3 linked regions of the Homo sapiens genome follow. Changing the gene in region 1 together with any one later gene gives a genetic interaction. Each region holds a gene or a part of one and is shown on either strand. Other genes may lie near its edges. The genes, in order: EPAS1, HILPDA and G0S2.

Region 1 (8,045 bases):
CACGCGAGGGTGTCCGCCCTCTTCGACCTGCCTGGATTTTTGTGCTGCAGAATGGCAGGGCAAACAGCGTGTCCTTCACCATCTAGAGCCCCTTAAGGGGTTGTCCAATTCCTATTGGGCTAATCAGTTTGAGACTCATTTACTTTTCGTGCCTGGGTCTGTTTGCTGGCTGCAGGCTTCTTTAGGGACCAAGATGTAATTAAAATATGTGAACCAATACATTGAAAGTTGGTGTTGTCATGTAAGTGACTGCTGTAGCTTTTCTGAGTGCCTCACAAGGGCGATGTGACAGTGAGGGGGCTCTCTGCTGATGATTCTGCCCACTAGTTCTTACATTTTGTGTTTCTTTGGTTTAGCAGAGCAGTTTCTTCCCCCAAATGCAATATGGGCAGAACATTTGGAATATTCGTTCTAACAATGGCCCGTCAAGAAGTGGGCAGATGATTTTGTCCCAGAATGTTCACACGTCGATAAATATGTTAATGTTTAATAATAAAGAGTTTGCTTTCTAAATGTTAGTTGGCTGGGTGTCCTTGATAGTACCAGTTTTGGTGGTAGTGGGCATTTGCGGTGACATCACAGATGTCAGAAACTGAAGCCTGGTGGGTGGGGGTACTGCACTTTCACTCACCTTTTTGTGCACGCATCTATCAGGAATGCCTGAGTCCTTTCACTGGGAAAAAAATGTGGAAATTCTGGGATTCACGGGGTTTGAGGAGTGGTTCAGGCAAATGTAAATGAGATCCTTGGATAATCAGGGATCAAAGTCCAGTCCCAAAGCCAGACCTAGGTCCAGACACCTTCCCAGAGTGCTTATACAGTAGTGCTCAGTACAGGGCTAGCGTGGAAGGGGAATTGGAGACACCTGGATCTCCAATCTCCCCCTCCTTCTGACAGCTGGACTTAGTTGTTCCTCTTCTAAAATCAAATCAAACTCCATCATTATTCCAACTCTGAAGGGAAAAAATATTGCTGGACAGTTTCTCTCAATTTAAACATATATTTTAAATAAATATTCCCTCCACACTTGATATGTTTCCATTGTATTACCAGCAGCGCAGGATGATACAGAATTGATGTAACACATTGTTGGCTTGAGTATTTAAGTTTTAATTCATACAGTTTTCATGAAGTTCAAAAGAATGCCATCATTTCAAGTTTTTTTCAGTGGTGCTTATAGGGAGCCTAGAATTATTTTATAAGAGACCATGGAAATCATCTAGTCAGACTTTTCTCTTTCTGGATAAGGAAACTGATGCCGAGAGAGGTTAAAAGACTTCTCCGGTCACAAGGAAAATTAGTGCTGATAAGAGTCAGGGCTGGTCGCGGTGGCTCATGCCTGTAATCCCAGCACTTTGGGAGGCTGAGGCTGCGGATCACCTGAGGTCAGGAGTTCAAGACCAGCCTGGTCAACATGGTGAAACCCCGTCTCTATTAAAAACACAAAAAAATTAGCCGGGCGTGGTGGTGGGTGCCTGTAATCCCAGCTATTCTGGAGGCTGAGGCAGGAGAATTGCTTGAACCCGGGAGGTAGAGGCTGCAGTGAGCGGAGATAGCGCTGCTGCACTCCAGCCTGGGCAAGAGTGAAATTCCGTCTCAAAGAAAAAAAAAAAAAAAAAAGTCAGAACCCTGGTTTATTACTTTCAATTAAGTATGTATTTTCCTATTGTTCACAGGAGAGTACCCCAGCCCTGAAATATCTCTAGATAGTGAGGATGATTTCCGAAGGAGTGCCTTCCCCATCACAACTCTCAAACCGCTGAACCTTATAGAAAGGAGATTTGCTTTTCTGGATAATTATCAACACCTTTAGGCTGCAGTAGAAGTGATGATTCTGTTTGCTTTTTGAAAAAAAAAAAAAAAGGAAGCAGAGTTGAATTGATGCTGTTCCCAGTGTCTGTAAACTTTGAGAAGTATGAATTCATTGTTTTAGTTAGAAAAAAATCTACTTATATAGGTAGACCTCATTAAACAAAACCAATGCAAGGACCGCTCCTCAGTGGAGCAGATTGCTTTTTGAGGTAGAGAACATTCAAGCAGCTGCTAGATTGATTTTTGTACTGGGTTAGTTGGCATTTTCACTAGGAGTGAAAACTGTGAGACTAAACAGTTTAATTTACTTAGAATGTCCCTCTTTCTCTCTGTGTGTGTGTGTGTGTGTGTGTGTGTGTGTGCCCGTGCGTCGGGGGGGGGGGCAGTGGTGATTCTCAACTTTCTAGGAATTTATTAAGTAAAGTGTTTAGAAATGGAAGGAAACAATTAGATAATTCTCAGTGCTCCAGGATTTTAGGCTCCTACATTTGAAAATACTTGCTGTCATTAATTGTCTTGAGATTTAGGCTTTTCCACTTTTCAGGAAATCTAGTAGTTTTTTGGGGGTTTTGTTTTGTTTTCCTTGGTTCTGCCCTATGCCAACCTGCTAGTTTCCCTTTTTATTTTAGCCTGATGAATCTTCCCTTTTGCTTTCAGTACTAACCATTGCTGGTAGTTCTTAACAGGTCTAGCTTTTACCAATATTGTCAAGTTAGCAATATTAGCTCCTGGGGCCCTAGTACTCTGTACTTCCACCCCTCTCCCCACCAGTACCATGCTGCCTGTTCACATGATGGACACCAGCTCTGATATTCACCCTAAGATATAATCCATAAGATGACAAACTTGTATTCAACACCGACTCCTACTCTGGCTAAAATGCTGAAGAGAATACTAAGAAATAGGGGATATGGTCCTGGTCATCAAGTTGCTTAGTCTGATTAGGAAAAAAAAAAAAAAAAAAAAAAAAGAGATACAAGGAAGCTTAAGTAAAAATATAAGGGGTTGGGCGTGGTAACTCATGCCTGTAATCCCAGCACTTTGAGAGGCCGAGGCAGGCAGATCACGAGGTCAGGAGTTTGAGACCAGCCTGGCCAATATGGTGAAACCCCATCTCTACTAAAAATACAAAAAATTAGCCAGGCGTGGTGGCGTATGCCTGTAGTCCCAGCTACTCAAGAGGCTGAGGCAGGAGAATCGCTTGAACCCGGGAGGCGGAGGTTGCAGTGAGCCGAGATCGTGCCACTGCACTCCAGCGTGGGTGACAGAGCGAGACAACGTCAAAGAAAGAAAGAAAAGAAAGAAAATATAAAGAGCTGACAGCCTACATGCTTTTCTGTAGAAATCTAATATTTTGAAGCAAAAGATAAGCTCTGAGTAGCATTTCAGGTAATAACCGCCCCCCTCCCCAACACACACATAAGCACACACAATTATTTAAGAGTATTATGTGTATTTAGAGGTGGAGAAATTTGTTCCTAGTGTCCCCGGAACCACACAGAGTAGGTGCTGACCACCAGCTTAAAGACTGGCTCAGAAGGAAGGTCAAATGGGAGAAGGCAGTCTTTGAGGGCTAACGAGAGGAAAGAAAACACACAAGGCTCCCTATGGTGTATCCCTTATCATGTACTTCGACACCATACACAGGAAGGCCCCTGAAATGGAATGTTTGCTGTTCTTTATACACTTGCTTTGGGTGGGGACATGGAAAGGGAGCTGGTGGGGCTCCACAGACAACAGGGGTAGTAATTTCTGTTCCCCTGAGAATATCAGTGGAGACAGCTATGACTCCAGGAAGGCCAAGAAGGGAGAGGGAGCTTCTTAACCAGGCTTTGTGAATGGGTTTCAGAGGCTGGCGTGTAAATCTCTGAAAATGTGTGCAAGACATTATGTATAGAAGCAACTTGTTCTAAAGGAAGTCTGTTCAGCTCTCCATAGCCTTTCAAAGGTTCTAGGATATGGAAAAGGCAAGCCCTTGCTCTTGGATGTCTGATTTGGTGACTGTCTTATGTTTCAGAGTCTTCCTGTTCAGATCCCAGACAGTTCTTGTGTTTTACTGCCATTGCCTCTCCCTGTGGTGAAGAATGGGGAGGAGGAAGGTGTGTGTATTTAGTAAAGGTTCTGAGGTGCCGCTTAATCTTCCCTGTCCCTGGCTGGCGTGTCCGTCCACCTACATGTCTGCCCTCAGTCTTGGAAGGACGGGAAGCCAAGTGCCCTGCACAGGGTAAATACTGGTATGATTCATTTTATTAATGCTTCTGAAAAATGACTGTGAAAACAAATTTATCCTCAAATGTTCCATCATCCTCAAACAGTTATTTGGATGACCTTCATGTTCTAGGAATGTATGTGGTCTTAATAGAAATTATATTTTGCATCAGGACAACACAAAAAACTGACAGTCTTATTTGTGCCAGTGCCGTCCTCAGAACTTTACATGGATTAACTTTTTAATCCTGTGAGATAAGCCCTGTTATTATCCCCACTTCATTGATGGGAAAGCTGAAGTCTAGAAGGGCTAACTGCCCAAGGTCGTATAGGTAGCATGGGCAGAGCTGCATTCAACCTGAGTAAAGGAGGTCCCCAGAGTCTATACTCTCAATGGGTGTTCCATACGCCCTTCCCTTACTGAAGATATCTATAAAGTATTTAATACTGCTTCTGACTCACAATAAGTGCTCTATAAATGACAACTGCCTTTGTTGTTTTCCTTGTAATTATAATTACTTTTCTTTTTTGTGATTTATCACTTGCATCAAACCTCACAAGCAGATAGGGATTGAAGATCTGAAAGGCCAACATGGAACTCCTTGAATTTCTTATTTTTCATGGGTTTTCCTAGACCCTGACAAGAGGTGGTTCTCTCCTGCCCCAAGAAATTCAAAGCTTTCCACATCCCACCCTTCGCTGGTGGCAAGACTTCAATAATTACTTCAGCCTTCGGACTCCATTGTGCAGGAGAACCTGTTAGAAGCTCTTCCTCTGTGGCTTCTGAAGAACCATCAAGATGCACAGGACTTCCTGTGGCTCTTTTGATCTTTTGAAATTGCAAGCACAGGAAGGAAAGAATGGATAGGGGGATAAAGAATAGCTATGATTGTTGTGATAATAGCATGTTGCATTTCTATAGAGCCCTTTCGCTGATGAGCCCTGAGCCTTAACAGCCATCACACTGTTGGCCCCTGCACTGTGAACCTAGAGGGTACCTTGAGTTTTTCTAGTGCTGCCAAACAGAATTGCATTGACACATACCTTAATCAAGAGAGAAGCAAGCCGTGTTGGCAACTGTGCATCACAGTCGATGTGGTGGTCATCCATGGGATGCCCCTAATAGCATCTGTAATTTTCAAGTAGATGTTGGGTGTAATTTGGTGACCCTTGTCTGTTCCCACTGTTGGAAGCCCCATAACTGATCTGATGAAAGCATAAAGTGAAGAAGAGTGGCGAGACCCTTTGTGAGATACCTGGAGCTGAAGAGTCAGGTGTGGAATGGACAAGAATGTTATCCACTTCTAAGTGACCTTGTTTTTTCTAATTTCTTAAGAAATACCTGTTTGCTTGACTGCCTTAGGCTGTTTGCAGGGGCCACTTGTACGTCAGCAAAACTCTTACTAGATGACATCACTGCCAGAAGTTCCACATGTTTCCAGGAGGCACATTTCCCACTGCCCCCACTCCCCCGAACTTGGAAAGATTCCTCAGTTTTAAAGTTATAAGTAATTTCCATGCCAGATAATGATCCTGTGAACAGATCCTTTTCTCATGTGGAAAAATATTTCAGAAAGGGTGTCTTGTCAATGAGAAAAATGACCCCATTGAAACATATGTTTATTTGCCATGTACTCATCTGACGTTTTGTGAATTCTATAAAGCCATGGAAGTGGATTGTTAGAAGTGTCTCATACACCCCTAGTGACTTCTTGAACTATCCCCCCATCCCCAGCCATGGAACTCTCCTATTAAAAAAACTAAGAGATAAGTGGTAGCAATCTTAACAAATTAGTGATTTTATCTGGTTAGGCCGTGTAATCAAACACGTGGGCAGGAAAGTGGATCCATTATGTTGTACTCATGATTGTGGTGCTGAAGGTAACCCCCATTGCCCTGTAGGCTGCCCCCAGAAGCAGGGGGTACAGCCAATAGTATTCTTAGAAGTTAATCAATTCTGTAACGGGTTGAGTGTTTTGGTCTCATTTTTAGTCCGAGGTGCCCTGATGCTGGCCTGTGACTAAGGGGAGTCAGTGGCTTGTTATGAATAAGAGGACACATGAGCTGAATCTGAGAAAGTTCAGAAGCATTTTATAAGTTGTTTAAAATACATCCATTAAAGTATATGATTATTTTTTGGTAATCATTTAAATCATTGTGCTGTGTGTCTACCCAGACAGTATTTATCTGTCTCTCGATGTTGTATTAGTATAGTATTAAAAAAATACACACATTTCACTTTTGATAAAAACTTTGCATACTGTCACTACTTTGTATAAGTTTTTTCCTGACTGCCTCTGGTTAGGGGGCAGGGAGCAAGAAGACCAGCATGCTTTCCTTCCTTTATATTTGGGAAATGGAGGTGCTGAGAGAAACAAGCCACACTGTCTGAAGTAAAACCTAGAAGTGGACCTGGTTGTCCATGGTGAGGGAAAGCCCATATGTACCACCTTGGGCTCCAGTTACAAGGTAATGAGCCATGAGCACAAAAGGGTGACTCAAAATTCAATGCCAGCCATTCTCATTACTAATGAGCAATTACAGCAAATATTTACAGGCCTCCTTCCTACCTTTATGACTTCCTGTTACTGAAGCACTTTGGAGTATTGAGAAAGATTGTCCTGGAAAAATACGTCACACACAGTTGCAGGAAAGAGTGCCTTTAAGCACACATAAAAACTCGGTTACTTGGCTTTGTTTATGAATTCCACATAGAAACAACAGAAAATTGTGCCTTTTGAGGAACTGCTTGAGAATCCTTCCTTCTGCATTTCAAGACAAGATTTTAAAAATCACATATATCAAATATATGGGGAAATGAGACACAATGTTTTTAGAGAGTGTCTAGAAATAATAGGACTGTGCAAGTTAGTACAGCAAAATTTTGGGTCAAAGCATGGGTCATTTGACAAACTCTCTTTATGAACATTACCTCTGCAATATTTTTCTAAATGAAAACAATCACACTTAATAGAATTAATCAGGATGGGAGCTAGAAGCATATAATTCACTTTCCACAGATTGGAGTAAATCCTCATAATGCCCCTTTCCTGTGTATTTAGTTAAAAAAGCACTCCAGTGAGATTGCTTTCGCAGTAAGTTTCTGTAAACCACTGTACCCTTGTATTTCTCTCCTGTGTTTCCAAGAGTTCTCAGATGCTATTTTCGAATGGCAGCGTTCACTCCAGAGCTGGCTGAGGTCAACGAAGCTAATTTTGGTGCCTTGGTGCCCAGGGTGAAGGGAGAGAGAAGTCCTCTGCAGAGCCAAAAGGACTCTCTGGGGCCTGGGTTTGGAGCAGTGTGGTGTTGCTGGACACACCACATTTCACCTTTAGAACCTTTATTTGTGTGCTTGCACAACAAATGTTTACCCAGATATTAAGATAAGGAAAGTATGAAGGTCACATTTCACTGGTGACAAGAGAGCTTCTATAAATGTAACCATATCGTTGTGCAGCGGGAGTCTGTCTTTTATTCTGTACCCGGGACTTAGGGGGAATTATTGGTGGGTGGGGCATGGGAGTTGAGGCTCTTCTTGGTTTTCTGGCTTTCTTGCTATCACTCTGTTTGTCTTGCCTCAGCTGATGTGCGCCTCCCATTTGGTAAGGGCCTTTGTCATGGCCAAGACATCTAAAGAAATCCTAGTCTGTGTGGCTGGGCACTGTGTGGTCCCCTGACTCTCTGGAGTCTTCCAGAGTTCCATGGAAATTAGTGCCCCCGTGCATTTCCCTGCCGACTGACTGGAAGGCACCCTGGCTGCTGAGATCGCTTTCCTGGTCCCCCAGAAGAGGTCCACATGGTGCTGATCCTGCAGCTGTTTTAGGCCTCCTCAGCGGGATTGTCCTATCCTCGGAGCACAGAGAATCTTCAGAGTGGGATAGGGGTTTCTTTTGTGGATTTGGGTTTCTCTTAGGGATCTCCAAAGATTAGCTAGACACTCAGGGCCTCAGTAAAGACATGGGTCCTTGGTCTAGTTTTCTTCCCAAGGGCAGCCACCATGGCAGTGGGAGTTCACCTTGCTGACT
Region 2 (8,727 bases), on another chromosome or scaffold:
TTTGCTCACTGTTCCCATCTGAAATGTTTACCAATTTTTCAGTTTATCTTGTTATTTTTACTTTTCTAAATCAACCATTATTACTAAAAATAGTTTTGAGTAGTCATAATTTGTTTAGATACATCCATATGTTTTGTAAATATTTCCTTACCATTTTTTCTTGCATTTCCCTATTTCCTTTTGGGTTCAGTTTTCTTGTGTCTTAGGTTCATTCTTCAGTAGTTTCCACGGTAAGGGCCTACGGCAGCTAACTCTGTTTTTGTTTGTCATCTGACGATGTCTTCAACTTGCCCTCCTTTAAAGAAAATAATGACTTTATTCAGATATAGTTCACATATCAAAATCCACCGTTTTAAAGGATACAATTCAATGGTTAAGTACATTCATAGACTTGTATAACTGTCAGCACTAATTTTAGAACATTTCATCACCAGCCCACACACCAAAAAAAAAACCACCCTGTACCCACTAGCAGTCATTCCCCAGTCCCCTCTCCTCCAGCCCTTGGCAACCACTTACCTACTTTCTGTCTCTGTGGATTTGCCTTTTTTTTTTTTTTGAGACAGTCTTGCTCTGTTGCCCAGGCTGGAGTGCAGTGGTGTGATCTCGGCTCACTGCAACCTCTGCCTCCTGGGTTCAAGCGATTTTCCTGTCTCAGCCTCCCAGGTAGGTGGGACTACAGGTCAGCACCACCATGCCTGGCTAATTTTGTCTTTTTGGTAGAGACAGGGTTTCACCATGTTGGCCAGGCTGGTCTCAAACTCCTGACCTCCAGTGATCTGCCCACCTTGGTCTCTGTGCTGGGATCCTCAAAGTGCTGGGCTTACAGGTGGGAGCCACTACGCCCAGCCCTGGATTTGCCTATTCTGACATTTCATATAAATGGAATCATACGATATGTACCCTTTTGTTTCTGGTTTCTTTCACTTAGCATAATGTGTTCAAGGTGCATCCATATTGTAGCATGTATCAATACTTCATTTTTTATGGCTGAATAATATTCCATTGTATCACATTTTGTTTATCCTTTAGCCAGTTGACGGACATTTGGGTTGTTTCTACTTTTTTGGCTATTATGAATAATGCTGCTATGAACATTTGTGTATAAGCGTTTGTGTGTGAACATACATCTTCGGTTCACTTGGGTATATATTTAGGAGCTAAACTGCTGGATCATACAGTAACTCTATGTTTAACTTTTTGAGGAACTATTCTAAAGCAGCTGCACTATTTTACATTCTAACAGCAATGTATGAGGGTTCTGTTTTTTCTACATTTTCATCAACATTTGTTCTTTTCTGGGTTTTTTTGCTTGTTTGTGTTATAGCCATCCTAGTGAGTGTGAGGTGGTGTCTCATTGTATTCTATTTTTTATGTTCATTTTAACATAAATGTAGCATACTGCTCACATACTATAAACCCTTTTCATTTAACAATATATTGTGGAGATCTTGTCGATATATACAGAACTTACTCTCTTTTTTCTGGCTTTATGGTAATTCACTGTCTGAATGCACCATCTTTTATTTAACCAGTTCTCTACTGATGGGCTGTTTTTTCCAGTCTTTCATTATCACAAACAGTGCTGCAACAGTGCTACCTTTAAACACTCCATTCTCTACATGTGGAAGGATAAATCCTAAAAGTGGAATTCTGGGCTAAAGGGCATGTGTATGCTTTTATTTTTATAGACATTGCCAAATGGTAGTCAGTGGTCTTTTTTAACACCTCAATGGTCTTGAGGTGTTTAAAAAACAAGTGGGGGTCAGGGTAACAATTACTGACAAATTGATTTCCATACTGAATGTACCAGTTTATACTTACCAGAAATGTAAGTACATGTTATTTAAATGAACACTTGATGATAAGATCAAATTTGTGAAAATACTTGTGTTCTTAGTATGGTACTCTTGTGTGGGTTGACTTCAGAATCACTTCTTTTTAGGGGCTTTGGGGGAAGGGCAGCTTATAAAAAGCTTTCCTTGGTTGCAGCTCCAAGGAGGAGGTAGCACCTGAAAACGGCTTCTCTTGGCGCCCTTATCTACATTTCCTTGATGAAACAATGGGTACTCACTGAAGATGCTGGGTAAAATATTCATTCATTTATTCCTTCAGTCAACAAATATTTATCAAAAGCCTACTATTTGGTGCTAGCTGCTGGAGATGGAATGGAAACAAAATCAGACCAAACACTCCTTTCACTGACATTTTCAGGCTTTTGAAAGGACACAGACATTAATACAACTAAGGGTAAAGTAACACACTGGGAAAGAAATGCCTATCATGCCACTGGAGCCCGGAACAGGGTCCGAGGGTCAGCAAGGGTGACCAGAGGAAATATGTTTGAATTGAGATATGAAAGATGAGTAAAAGACTAGGTGAAGAAAGTCTCTTCTTCCTCTGGAAGAAAAAGCATAGTTAACAAATAAAGAAGGCTGGGTATGGTGGCTCACACCTGTAATCCCAGCACTTTGTGAGGCTGAGGCACGTGGATCACTTGAGGTCAGGAGTTTGAGACCAGTCAGGGCAGCATAGAGAGACCCCATCTCTACAAAAAAAAAAGAAAGAAAAGCAAGAAAAGAAAGGAAAGAAAGGGAAGAAAGGGAGAAAGAAAGAAAAAGAAAGAAAGAAAGAAAGAGAAAGAAAGAAAGAAAAAGAAAGAAAGAAAGAAAGGAAAGAAAAGGAAAAGAAAAGAAAAGAATTAGCTGGTGTGGTGGTGGCAAAGAAAGAAAAAAGAAAGAATTAGCTGGGTGTGGTGGTGTGTAACTGTAGTCCCAGCTACTTAGGAGGCTGAGGTGGTAGGATAGCTTGAGCCCAGAAAGTCAAGGCTGCAGTGAGCAGTGATCGTGCCACTGTACTCCAGCCTGGAAAACAAAGTGAGACCCTTTCTCAACAACAACAACAAATAAAGAAGAGAGGCAATAATACCTACCTCATAGCATCGTTAGAAAAATTAAATAATACATGTAATGCATTTAGCAAAATGTTCAGCACGTATCAGTTACTTGAAGAATGCTTATTTTGTTTCCACTCTTTCTTTCTTCTTTTTTTTTTTTTTGAGATGGAGTTTCCCTCTTGTTGCCCAGGCTGGAGTGCAATGGTCTGATCGCAGCTCAGTGCAACCTCTGCCTGCCAGGTTCAGGTGATTCTCCTGCCTCGGCCTCCCAAGTAGTTGGGATTAAAGGCATGCGCCACCATGCCTGGCTAATTTTGTATTTTTAGTAGAGAATGTTGGTCCATGTTGGTCAGGCTGGTCTCGAACTCCTGACCTCAGGTGATCTGCCCGCCTCAGCCTCTCAAAGTGCTGGGATTACAGGTGTGAGCCACCATGCCCAGCTCTTTTTTTTTTTTTTTTTTAAATAACCATAGTGAATGTTAAAATCCCAGTTCCCCAAGCAAAACATTACCACCCTACTTATGTACTTACTTCTAAACTCTACCCCACACTGCCTTGGGTTGTTAGTTATCTTATCTTATTCAGGTCTTGTTTACTCAACCAGGTGACAAGCTTATTTAGAACAAGAATCTGGCTTTATACTTTTTAGCAAAATAATAGCTACTATTTGTTGAGCATATATGACATACTCTTTATGGGCATTATTTCCAACCCTCACAACAACCCTGTTTTACAGATTATTTTCCTCATTTTACAGATAAGGAAACTAAAGTTCAAAGGGGTCAGTTAGCCTGGCCAAGGTGTTGAAGGCAGGACTAAATCCTGATGCAGGTAGCTACATTTGTAGCTGACAGAATGGTAAAGCATAGAGCTGCCCTCACCCAAACCCTTCTTATTTCCAACTGGCATGACCTTTAGACAATGGCAGGGAATATGGGGAGAAAGAATTGTTGGAGAGGTGCCCATCCCTTCTTCCAGCTGTGTGAAGTATAAATTTAGAACTCAAACTAAGTAGAACTCAAATGGTCATTGTAGAATTCCTGCATTCATTCAGCAAGCCTAGGCTGCTAATGAGCAAAACCCCTCACTGGGAGTTTTGTAGTTGATGATACAGATAATGTTAAGATTCATAGAATGTTTTTTATGTGCCAGGCATTGTTCTAAGCGCTTTATATGGATTAATTCATTTAATATCAGGTTAAGACTGTTATGATCTCACAGAACAGCTGAGGAAACAGAACTACAAGAAGGTTAAAGGGTTCGCCCAAGGCCTTCACCTGGCAAAGTAGTGGCGTTTGGATCTGGCAGTGATTTCGCAGCTTGAGACCTATTTAATAACAGTGTGAGAGAAGGGTCACACAGTCAAGCAAAAAAACAGACGAAACTCTGGTATAGCGAAGGACCAAAAGTTCTGCGGGCTGAGCAGGAAAGTTGGCTCCAAATGTCTGCCTGCCTGCCAGCAGACCTCCAGCCCCAACCTTCTGCTTTCCCGGCTTCCCCACCCCCTCATTCCCGACAGACCACAGCCAGCCAGCCAGGAAAGGAGGGGAAAGGTCGCAGTGGGGATGGCTCCTCCCTTCCCGTCTTAGAGCCCTTCTTAAGCAGAGCCCGCCGAGCTCGCTGAGATGTGGAAAGTCACAGGGTTCTTTCCCATCCGGCACGGGCACTTGACCCGGGTACACGGAACCGCCAGTTCTAAAGCCACCAGCGGCCTTCCCTTCCACGGCGTGTACACCCCTTCCCGGGGGTCCTCCCCATTCCCAGTGTCTCTCCGGGACTCTACTTTCTGAGATCCCCCGTTGCGTGCTCTCAAGACAGACCGCACAGTCTTGGCTGGGTGGGTTCGGGGGTGATTAGTAAGGCAGCCTAGCCCCCCAAATCTGGACATAAGGCTGGTCTGTGACCTCCTGGCTCTTTAGTTCAAGCCGAAAGCACCCTTAAAAATCATCTAGCGGCCGGGCGCGGTGGCTCACGCCTGTAGCCCCAGCACTTTGGGAGGCAGAGGTGGGAGGATGGCTTGAGATCAGGAGTTCGAGACCAGCCTGGGCAACATAGCGAGACTGTCTCTATTTAAAAAAAAAAAAGAAGAAGAAGAAGAAAAATCATCTAGTGGCCAATGTCTTCATTACAGATGAGAAAACCGAGGCCCATTTAAATACCAAGTGACTTGCCCATATGCAGTTAGGATCCCACACCAGGGCCAGGAGTATTTCACGTTTTCTGAAGCGACACGACAAACTCTCATAGAAAGCAGAGCTTGCAGAGCTTAATATGTTGCACAAGGGCCTCACCATTCCAGAGATACCGATGGCAACTGAAACTCGGGATTTGGAATCTTGGTACAGCTATGAAGTGAAACAAAACCAGCTCTTCAGTCCTTGAAATGAAGAAAATAACGAGTGGGGTAGGGGTCTGGTGCCCTCTGACAATTTAGTGCACCCGAAATCTCTGGGGAAGAACCCACCCTTCACGGCGGGGCTTCACGGACACGAAGGCCATCGGTGTTTTTCACCTACTGGGGAGAAGGGATATGTGCTCTCTGACTCCTTCAAATGTTTTCTACAGCAGAGATGGCAGTCGAGATTAATACACACGCCTCGTCTCACTCCAGAACACAATGACTCAAAACCGCACGACGTGTACTTTTGGAAACAGCTCCGCGGGAGAGCACCCGGGACAATCCCCAAACCCCGTTGCCCGCGGGGTGGGGCCGCGGACGTGCGCCACGTCGTGTGCGTCCCGGGCGTGCGTGCGGCCTCCAGTGCGCGTGCGCGTACCCTCCTGGGGCGTGCTCGCGGCTATAAGGGGCGGAGGCTGGGCGGCGTTGCTCTGCGCTCTGCGGCTGACGGCGCTTTTGTCTCCGGTGAGTTTTGTGGCGGGAAGCTTCTGCGCTGGTGCTTAGTAACCGACTTTCCTCCGGACTCCTGCACGACCTGCTCCTACAGCCGGCGATCCACTCCCGGCTGTTCCCCCGGAGGTGAGCGGCCCTGTGGGCTTCCCCGGCTCCCCACCCCCATCGCTAGAGTGCTCGCCGCGCTAGCAGCCTCGCGTTCCAGGGCTGGGGGTGCGCCGCCGGGATCCTCTCTGATCGCCCACGCCCCATCTGGGGTCCCCATTCAGCCGTCAGCCCTGTTTTGTCCTAAGGTGGTCCTAACTAGGATCCACGTGGCCCATCCCACGCCCACAGGTGCTGAGTTAGGCATCCCTGCCATGCCCTCCCAGAGCACCTTCACGATCTCCTTGCTGTCCCAACACTTAGCGTGTTGCGTGTTAACTACCCTTTGTCTATAAGGTTTGCAATGTGGCCCTAGTATCTTCCAGGGTACCTAACACATTGCAGATATTCATGGTATGTTTGTTAAATAAATGAACTTGATAGATTTGACCCTCATAGAGTTATTTGGACTTGCAAAAAGTTTGTAGTTAACTCCAATCTGTGATGTGGGAGAGACTTCTAGGCAGGTTCCTTTCTCCAGGGCATGTTCTTATATTTCCCATTACCCACCACCCCCCTGCAAAAGGACTGGGCCTATTTCAGGAAGGTGACTGATGCCTGCACTGTAGCACAGGGGTTGTGTATTGTGCCTTGCAGGAACAAAATTTTCAATAAAGTAAATGTTTGTTTGTTTGTTTTTGAGACGGAGTTTTGCTTTTGTTGCCGAGGCTGGAGTGCAATGGCGCGATCTTGGCTCACTGCAACCTCTGCCTCCCGGGTTCAAGCAATTCTGCCTCAGCCTCCCGAGTAGCTGGGATTACAGGCATGTGCCACTATGCCCGGCTAATTTTTGTATTTGTAGTAGAGACAGGGTTTCACCATGTTGGTCAGGCTGGTCTCGAATTCCTGACCTCAGGTGATCCACCCGCCTCGGCCTCCCAGAGCGCTGGGATTACAGGTATGAGCCACCGCGCCTGGCCTAAGAAAGTAAAAGTTTTAAGAAGTGTTCTTGAATTAGTCCAAGAAGCAACACTGGCTCCGCAGCCATGAAGTTTGCAATGTAAAATATTCTTGGAGAGTTGCTGTGCAACTCCCTGGTCCCTGTGTCCCTCACTGGCTAAGCCTCTCCTTCAGCCCTGTGAGAGGACAGAAGAGTCAGGGCTGGATGCATGCATATCCCCAAAAGGCTATAGATTCATCCTTTCCTCTTTTTTCTCAGGGTCCAGAGGCCTTTCAGAAGGAGAAGGCAGCTCTGTTTCTCTGCAGAGGAGTAGGGTCCTTTCAGCCATGAAGCATGTGTTGAACCTCTACCTGTTAGGTGTGGTACTGACCCTACTCTCCATCTTCGTTAGAGTGATGGAGTCCCTAGAGGGCTTACTAGAGAGCCCATCGCCTGGGACCTCCTGGACCACCAGAAGCCAACTAGCCAACACAGAGCCCACCAAGGGCCTTCCAGACCATCCATCCAGAAGCATGTGATAAGACCTCCTTCCATACTGGCCATATTTTGGAACACTGACCTAGACATGTCCAGATGGGAGTCCCATTCCTAGCAGACAAGCTGAGCACCGTTGTAACCAGAGAACTATTACTAGGCCTTGAAGAACCTGTCTAACTGGATGCTCATTGCCTGGGCAAGGCCTGTTTAGGCCGGTTGCGGTGGCTCATGCCTGTAATCCTAGCACTTTGGGAGGCTGAGGTGGGTGGATCACCTGAGGTCAGGAGTTCGAGACCAGCCTCGCCAACATGGCGAAACCCCATCTCTACTAAAAATACAAAAGTTAGCTGGGTGTGGTGGCAGAGGCCTGTAATCCCAGCTCCTTGGGAGGCTGAGGCGGGAGAATTGCTTGAACCCGGGGACGGAGGTTGCAGTGAGCCGAGATCGCACTGCTGTACCCAGCCTGGGCCACAGTGCAAGACTCCATCTCAAAAAAAAAAGAAAAGAAAAAGCCTGTTTAATGCACAGGTGTGAGTGGATTGCTTATGGCTATGAGATAGGTTGATCTCGCCCTTACCCCGGGGTCTGGTGTATGCTGTGCTTTCCTCAGCAGTATGGCTCTGACATCTCTTAGATGTCCCAACTTCAGCTGTTGGGAGATGGTGATATTTTCAACCCTACTTCCTAAACATCTGTCTGGGGTTCCTTTAGTCTTGAATGTCTTATGCTCAATTATTTGGTGTTGAGCCTCTCTTCCACAAGAGCTCCTCCATGTTTGGATAGCAGTTGAAGAGGTTGTGTGGGTGGGCTGTTGGGAGTGAGGATGGAGTGTTCAGTGCCCATTTCTCATTTTACATTTTAAAGTCGTTCCTCCAACATAGTGTGTATTGGTCTGAAGGGGGTGGTGGGATGCCAAAGCCTGCTCAAGTTATGGACATTGTGGCCACCATGTGGCTTAAATGATTTTTTCTAACTAATAAAGTGGAATATATATTTCTACTGTGTGTCATGTTGACTTCTGCTCTTGAAATTCGTGGTAGGGAGGGTCTTAATTTCTAGACCTGAGGTTTAATTTTAACATCTCAATACTTTGGAGCAGGAAAGTGCTTAAATCACTTTGTTTAAAACATAGTATCAGTAGACTTCTGAATTTGGGGGCAGAGGCAGTTGGGTCTGCCATGTATCAACCAGTTATGTGAGCCTAGGCCACGATTATTGCAGGCCTGTCATGACTAGATCTGTAAAGAAGAAGAAAAATGATCACCACTTCCAGCCCCTCTCCTTGAGTCTCTGGGGCAAAGAGGACTATCAGTCCAGGAGGCTGTGGGCTTTTTCTTTTGTACTCTTCAGCGTGTTTTACTTACCCACCAAAAAGGCTGCTTAATTCAGATTGTTCTCAAAGTCAGTTGGTAAAGTGTCCACACCACACAGATGATTATATCTGCTCTCCCAGATCTA
Region 3 (7,186 bases), on another chromosome or scaffold:
GAATAGATTTCAGAAAGAGATGGCTTTTGATCAGGGCCAGGAACACTTGGTAGGAATTGAGTTGGCAGAAATGAAATGGAGATGTGTGTAGGGCATTGGACGAAGGAGAGAGTCTGAGCAGAGGCAATGGTGTGAGCCAGTGATATGTTTGGCAAAAATGCATAGCTGTTGATGAAAGGAGTAAAGTGTCAGTACCTGATTAGGACAGGTGACATGAAAAATGTGAGGAGACTAGCATCAAGGCCATGCCTCTGGCTCCTGGCTACTTCTTTAAAGTTTAAAATTTGTTTTGCTGAGCCCTATAGAGTCACTGAATTAGCTATTACTACAGATGAAGCTCTGTACACTGGAGGAGGAGGACTCAGATATGTAACAACCGGTTTTTTTCTCTTTCTAGCCCAGAGTTTCTTACTATGATCTGGATTCGTGGGGAGGAAGGCTGGGTAGAGCTAGACTCATCATCTGCTTTGGTGTTCTTGGGAGCTTATCTCTTTTCCTGCCAGGTAGATAGTTTTTCCTTTCTTTCCTTCCCTTCACCTCCAGACCTCCCTCCTTCATTTTCTTTCCTTCTCTCTGTCTGTCTGTCTAAAATATAGTTGGGAAGAAAAAGGTATCAGCCATGGGAACCTCTGGTGCACAGGTGTAAGGAACAAAGAGCTTTTCTGCCTTAGAATTAATCAGTTATCTCCTACTCACTGTAGCTCAGAAGTTGATCTACCTTTTGATGTTAAAATGCTAAATCTCACGGAAGTTATAAAATTTTCTCTCTTCCCACCCCTAACAAGAAGGAAAAACAAGTCCTCAACAGACTTATATGCATGTAGTAACTTATTACACAGTTCCTAGGTGTGAAGCAAGTGTCTGACCCTCAGGAAGCTGCTCCCTCTGCAGTGCTCAGGTAAGAACCCATCACCATCGCCCACCTGCTCACCCTCCCTGCTTCCCACCCCAGGACACCACACCTCTCAGGAATTACATGAGATATGGTATAAAAAGTTTTTTTATTTCAAAATGCAAAATGGTGGTCATTGTAATAATTAATAATAATAACATAAAAAGCATTTATCCTTCCTCCCTAGTGCAAAATGGTAGACGCATTTAGATAATTCACACAGTGTTGGAAATGTCATGACAATGCAGTGCTGCACAGCAGCAAAACTCAATCCCAAACTCCTTTGGTGGATGCTTGTGGTAGGTCAGTTCTAGATGTCAGCGGTTTCTCTGAAGTTAAGTCCAAATAAAAAACAGCACGTGCTCCTGCACTCTCCCAGCGGAGTCAGGCTCCTGTGCGCGCGCCCCCTCTGTCTCTCCATTCCTCTCTCGGTCTGTCTCTGTCTACTGCGTCTCCCTCCCACTCCGCTGGTCTCCCACAGTTCCTAGGAGGCGTGCTGCCGGTTGGACAGGGCCCGGCCGCCGAGGACCGTGTCCTGCTGCTTGCCTTTCTCCTGCAGGGCTTGCTTCTGGAGAGCCTGTCGCTCCAGGGCGGCCTGCAGCTCCGCCACGGCTGCCTCCTGGTCCCGCAGACGTCTGGCGGCCGTGAAGGGGCTGCACACAGTCTCCATCAGGCCGAGCACCACGCCGAAGAGGGCCAGCACGCTGCCCAGCACGTACAGCTTCACCATCTTCCCCTTGCGCTTCTGGGCCATCATCTCCTTGGCCAGGGGGATCAGCTCCTGGACCGTTTCCATCTCGGCTCTGGGCTCTCGGAGGCGGGAATGACCTGCAGGAGGAGCAGCAGGAGAGGGGCTTCAGCCACCAAAGAACGGCTCCCACCACCCCGCACCCAGCTAATCTTGGGGAGGGCTCATAGAAAGGCGGACTACCTTAGTGGCACGGCGCGAGCAGGAGGCAGCGCGAGCTGCAGTTGGCAGCGGTCAGCGCGTCCGTTGGTCCGACCGACCTCAGCGTTCTCCTCCTCTCGGCAGCTGCAGCTCTCCCAGTTGGAGACTCCGCCGCTGGCACCGCTTTAGCGTCCGGGGGCCGCTTATATCTTTTCTCTGAGACACGCCTCCTGGGCTCTCCGGCCCAGGCCAGCGCGGTCAGAGCCAGGGGAACTCGGAGGGGGAGGAAGAAGAGGAGGGGAAAAGGAGGGGGTGGAACCCGGCTGGGACCTGGCAGGAGGTGGCCACGCGCTGAGCACGCTCCGACTGTGTGAGCTAGGGGGCCCGGCGCGGGTGCCATCGCAGCGGGGCGCGTGGGAAGGCCAGTGTGCACGCGAAGGTCCCACTCCAGGCGAGCGCAGGGGAGGACCCGGAGCCCAGGGAGGTGTCCGCGGACATCTCTGACATGGCGGCAACCTTCTTACTGGTGTCAGCGGGTGCACAGCTTCCCTTGTCCAGGACAGCCTGACATTATAAATAATGAGGGAATTTGGGGGTTCCATCTAAAGAAGAAAGCTTTCATTTTTATTCGGAAGGGTTGTCACCTTCCCACGTGTGTGGCAATGGATCAGAGAGGAGAAGGCAAGGGGGAAGGATCTGGGTAACAGGACAGAACAGGTTACGCTTGGATAAAGCAATATGTGCTAATATTGTTTCTTTCCTGCCTGGTTGGTTTTATTTAGAGGTACATGCATGTATAACTAGAGTCAGTTGATAGAAAACTATTCATTGATGGTGCTTTTATGCACAGAGGTGTGTGTGTGTGTGTGTGTGTGTGTGTGAGAGAGAGAGAGAGAGAGAGAGAGAGAGAGAAAGAGAGAGAGATTAGTCTCTTTGCCTGCGAGCTGTTTCCTTATGTACTTCCGTGTATCAGGGAAGAGCCTTCAAATTCAAATTGTTCTCACTTCCACTTGAGAAGTGGAGTTGGGAGCTTGGGGGTAGGGGGTCAAGTATGGAAGGGGCTGTTGGTAGAAGTTCATCTGCCATTTTAGAATGGAAGTATTTCATGCTCTCCTCAATAATTCTCTGCCACCCTCCTGGGTTTGGGGGTACAACTTCACTGCTCCAGCTCAACTTCAGCTTTGAAGCAGTTTGTGGGCAGAAGGGCGTGTAGTAGACAGCTTAGGTAAGAATCCAGAGTGTGAGTACTCTTGGACGTGTGAAGATGTAGGATTGATTTTGACCAGGGTTAGCTGTAATCACCTGGGGCTGAGGGAGCGTTCTAGTTTGGCTTTGGTTATGGATATGCTAGAGTTAGCAAACTTGGGGAAAAAGAGAGGCAAATTGGCCAAAGGGTTAGCAAACTTGGGGAAAAGGAGAGGCAAATTGGCCAAAGGCCTTTAAGCAGAGAAAGGGAGGGGGCAGGGGAAAGAAGGGGAAATCAAACTGGCCAGAAAATTGCAAAGGTCAGTGATGCAATCTTGCAACAGCCTTTGCAGTCGGTCGGACTGAGCCCTGAAGGGCGGGTCGGGGGAAAAGGCTGTCTCAGGGATCAAATATTTTAGTTTTTGAATTGTTAACAGTAATCTTTCTTTGGGGGTCTGAAGCAATTTCTCAGATGATTCAGTTTAAAAAGGCAGCAATAACAACTACCCTTTGCCTTGACTATTAATAGTTCAGGCAAGGGCTTGTGTGTGGAGAATGGTCAAGGTTATCTAAATAGCTTATTTGAAATTCTATGTTTTAGAATTTAGTCTGAGTGAAGGTGACCAGGGGCCAAATAGAATTGATTATTCCTGGAGGACTGTGTTTCCTGCTTATTGTTCTTTTAACCTTGTCAGGCAGGAAAATTCTGTAACAAGGGTTCCTGCCAAGTTTAATATCAGTCTTGGCATTTTCTTTGAATCTTCCTTATAGTTTCAGAGCAACCTCTGATAACTGGCAGAAATGATTAGTGAGCTTTCCCAATATCTGTGAGGGTTCCAAACCCATTGACTTCTGGAAGAGCATGTGATGTGTGCCCTGATATAAGGGCTGTCACGTGGTTTCCATTCTGAAGGTGAGTCAGCCTAGCTTGGGACCCAAAATTCTGAAATTGACTGGTCCAGTAAGCATTTCCTGTGTTTCTGTAACTCAGAGACGCAAACCACACGTCTTCCTAGGTCAGAAGGCTGTAATTTACCTGGGGTTCCCCTTTCCTGTGATTTGCTGTGTTAGTGCACATCACCAGCTCAGTTCCTTTTTTTGATAATTTGACTTTGACCTCCAGGTTCCAGCAGCTATATTGGTAAGAGCTGGACAGAGGAGGGGCAGCAAGTGCCATGGACGGAGGTCACTGGTAGACTTGATCTTCCTAGTTTAGGTGGTAGCTGGGGCTGAGCAGGAGATGATGGGAGTAGAAGGCTAAGGAATCCAGTGTTAACTCATGTCTAGGAATTTCTGAGTGCAGCTCCTCTGTCTGGGTGGGAAAAGAGAACCTGGCTCCTAGGGTAGAAGGTGACTAGGTAGGGCTTGGAAACTAAACATATATTTTAGTGGGGCTGATGTCATTTTTAGGGAAGTAAAGCACTGTGTTGTGTCATGCATGCAGGTAAGATACAGGTTATAGCGATGATGGTCAAACCAAGCCATAGGGTGACCAACCATCTTATTTTGCTCAGGGTTGAGGGGTTCTCTGAAATGCAGGACTCCTGCTAAAACTGAGCACTAAAACTGAGATACTTCCAGGCAAACTGAAACACTTCCAGGCAAACTGAAATAGTCATCCTACCCTTGAGTCTATCTCAACATTTAACTCTTGCCACTTCTAGGAAGGTAGGAAGGACTAGTTTAAAATTTTTATATTTTGCTTTCTAAATCCCTTTCTCTCAGACATTAAGACATTCAGAGCCATCTGCAGAGGGTAAAGTCACAAAGGGGTGCATGTGTTTCAAGGGTTAAGTGCAGAGGAGGGATAGAACTGTCCCTACCCCTCTGCCTTGGGGATTGAAGACACAGGGGAAAGAGGTCTTTTGGATGGTTAGTTGTAAATGAGCTTCAATAATAATTGTTATTGTTACAATTATTATAATATAATAATAACAATAATAATTATTATTTTGTTACCGGCTGCTTGCTGCCTACACAAAGTCACTGCCCACCCCTGGGGCTCCAGGCAGCTGAAGGGAGGGAGTCATCATAGGAGATATGACAAAACTATTTGTAGTTTTAAGACTACCGCACTAGAAATTTTTTTTAGACCCTTAGTTACTTTCATAGTTTTAGAAAGGAAGTTGCTTATCACTCGGATATCAGTGGAAGACACTGAAATTTATATGTGTAGCCACTGTCTCCTCTGGTCTTATAGACTAGAGTTCTAGAGTCTAAATATTTCTGTGTGGATACACTGCTATTATCACAGCTTGACACACTTAAAACAAGACTCCTTACCTTCTCTATACTCTTACAAGCTAAGTCTTCTTCTCAATATCCTTATTTCTAGCAGTGACATCTCCGTTTCATTTGTTCTCTGGGCTTGAAATATCATGGAAGTTATTTGGAGAGGCCTTCCCTGACTACTGCATCCCACCACTCTCCACCCAGTGCCCTACTTTCTTTTTCTTCATAGCACTTGGTTACCTGATTCTATGTGGATGTACTTAATGGTGTGGTTTTATATTGTCTTCCATGTGCGTTGGAGGATAGGCTTCATGAGGATAGGGACTTTGGTTTGCTCCTCACTGTGTCCCCAGTGCCCAGTATAATTCTTAGCACATAATAGGTCCTTAATGGGTAACTATGGGATTAATGAATGGCTTTTCCATGGACTGTGAAGCCTGGCAGGGAAGGGACTGTTTTTTGTTTGTTTGTTTGTTTGTTTTTGAATGCAGTCCAACTTTTAGTAGATGCTTAAAGAAGCATTCAGGTTTTTGAGGGGACAGTTTTTTTGCTTTTAATCCTTTCTCCTCTAATCCATCTTAAACACTACCACCAAATGAATCTTCCTAAAATTTAATTTTTTATTGTCAACTGCCTGTTTAAAGGCCAAGATCATTTCTCATTGCCCACATAATGGACTCCTGGATCCTGCATGTTGAATTTGCTTGATTTAGTATTCTTGGAATTCAGGCTCTCTATGGTCCGATCTTCTCCTGTTCTTCTCCCACAATAGCCCTTTGCTCCACAGAGAGGTTTCTTCACAGGCCAAGAAACAATTCATTCGCATTGCTGCTGCTTCATTTATTTTTGCTCACACAGTTGTTTCTACCTGAAATGCTGTCCTCTTTCTACTTTGTCTTCCTTTCTTCCTTGAGGTCAAGTTCAATTTCCTGTGCTCCAAGAAGCTACCACTGCCCATGGCAGCACACCTTGATCTCTCCTTTCTGTGAATTTCAGTTGCCTTTGGGGCTTGTACTCTACAGGCTGGCACTGGATGGATTACCGTTTTGTACAACTCTGTCATTGTTTCCTGTGGGCTTGCCTCAGCTCTGTGGAAGACAAAAGCTTTGTATCTTTCATGGTGTTAACATAGAATAGGAGGCTAATCAATATTAGTTACATTGACCTAAAAGTCAGTGCTGAGATAGAGAGGGCAAAGTGACCAGTTAAGGCTCTCTTGGGAAGTTATTTCAAGCACAGTAGCCTGTCCTTGGCTCAGAGCCTTGGTGTTGAAATTGCCCAAGACCTGGCAACTTGGCTTAGTTTCCTCCACTCTGGTCTCCTCACCTTTCACTTCCACTCCCAACTTAGTGTCTGACATTGTAGCCATTGGCTCACTCTGGGCACCCTCCAGCCTGCCCGTGGTACAAATCAAGGCAAAGGAACAGACTTTATAGGCATTCTGCTTTTGTCCTTCATAACTTTTGGTCAAGCAGAGCCACCAGCTGCTGGGGCATGCAGACTGTGCTGGAAGCCTTGAATAGCCATGGGTGGTGTGGTTAGAATTACCTGCACCCTGCTGCCTACATACCACTTCCAGATTAAACAATATACTTTACAAGTTTGAGTCAGCACAAGGAATTTTCCCCAAGCTCAAATGCCAATTGGTCTTAAGGGTATAGGGCTCTAAAGTCAAGCAAACCTGGGTTCCTCCAAATCCTGACTCCTCCATTTGCTAAGGCCTGACCTTGGGCAAGTGACTTAACTTCTATAACTTCTACTTCCGTATCTGTGAAGTGAGAGTTATGATAGCCCCTATTAAATGGGGTGTGGTGATGATGATAAGCCCCTATGAAACAGATATGATGAAGAGTGAATGAGATAGAGCTCTGTAAGGGACTTAGGCAGTTTCTGGCACAAATGAAGCAATCATTAAATGATGGCTGTTATTATTCAATTGTCTTTGCCTCTTGCTCTACGTCGGCAATTTCCATGATGCTTTATCCCAG

What was found.
Region 2: of EPAS1 (region 1) and HILPDA, changing one suppresses a phenotype caused by changing the other (phenotypic suppression), as found in Homo sapiens cells (one study listed by BioGRID).
Region 3: of EPAS1 (region 1) and G0S2, changing one suppresses a phenotype caused by changing the other (phenotypic suppression), as found in Homo sapiens cells (one study listed by BioGRID).

What each region holds. Positions count from the first base shown.
Region 1 is NC_000002.12:46,299,977-46,308,021, forward strand, and holds part of EPAS1 (endothelial PAS domain-containing protein 1), read left to right. Parts: intron 1-8,045.
Region 2 is NC_000007.14:128,450,151-128,458,877, forward strand, and holds HILPDA (hypoxia-inducible lipid droplet-associated protein), read left to right. Parts: upstream 1-5,727; 5' UTR 5,728-5,873; intron 5,874-7,050; 5' UTR 7,051-7,118; coding exon 7,119-7,310; 3' UTR 7,311-8,268; downstream 8,269-8,727. UniProt on the Homo sapiens protein: Increases intracellular lipid accumulation. Stimulates expression of cytokines including IL6, MIF and VEGFA. Enhances cell growth and proliferation.
Region 3 is NC_000001.11:209,670,187-209,677,372, reverse strand, and holds G0S2 (G0/G1 switch protein 2), read right to left. Parts: upstream 1,962-7,186; 5' UTR 1,824-1,961; intron 1,721-1,823; 5' UTR 1,689-1,720; coding exon 1,377-1,688; 3' UTR 983-1,376; downstream 1-982. UniProt on the Homo sapiens protein: Promotes apoptosis by binding to BCL2, hence preventing the formation of protective BCL2-BAX heterodimers.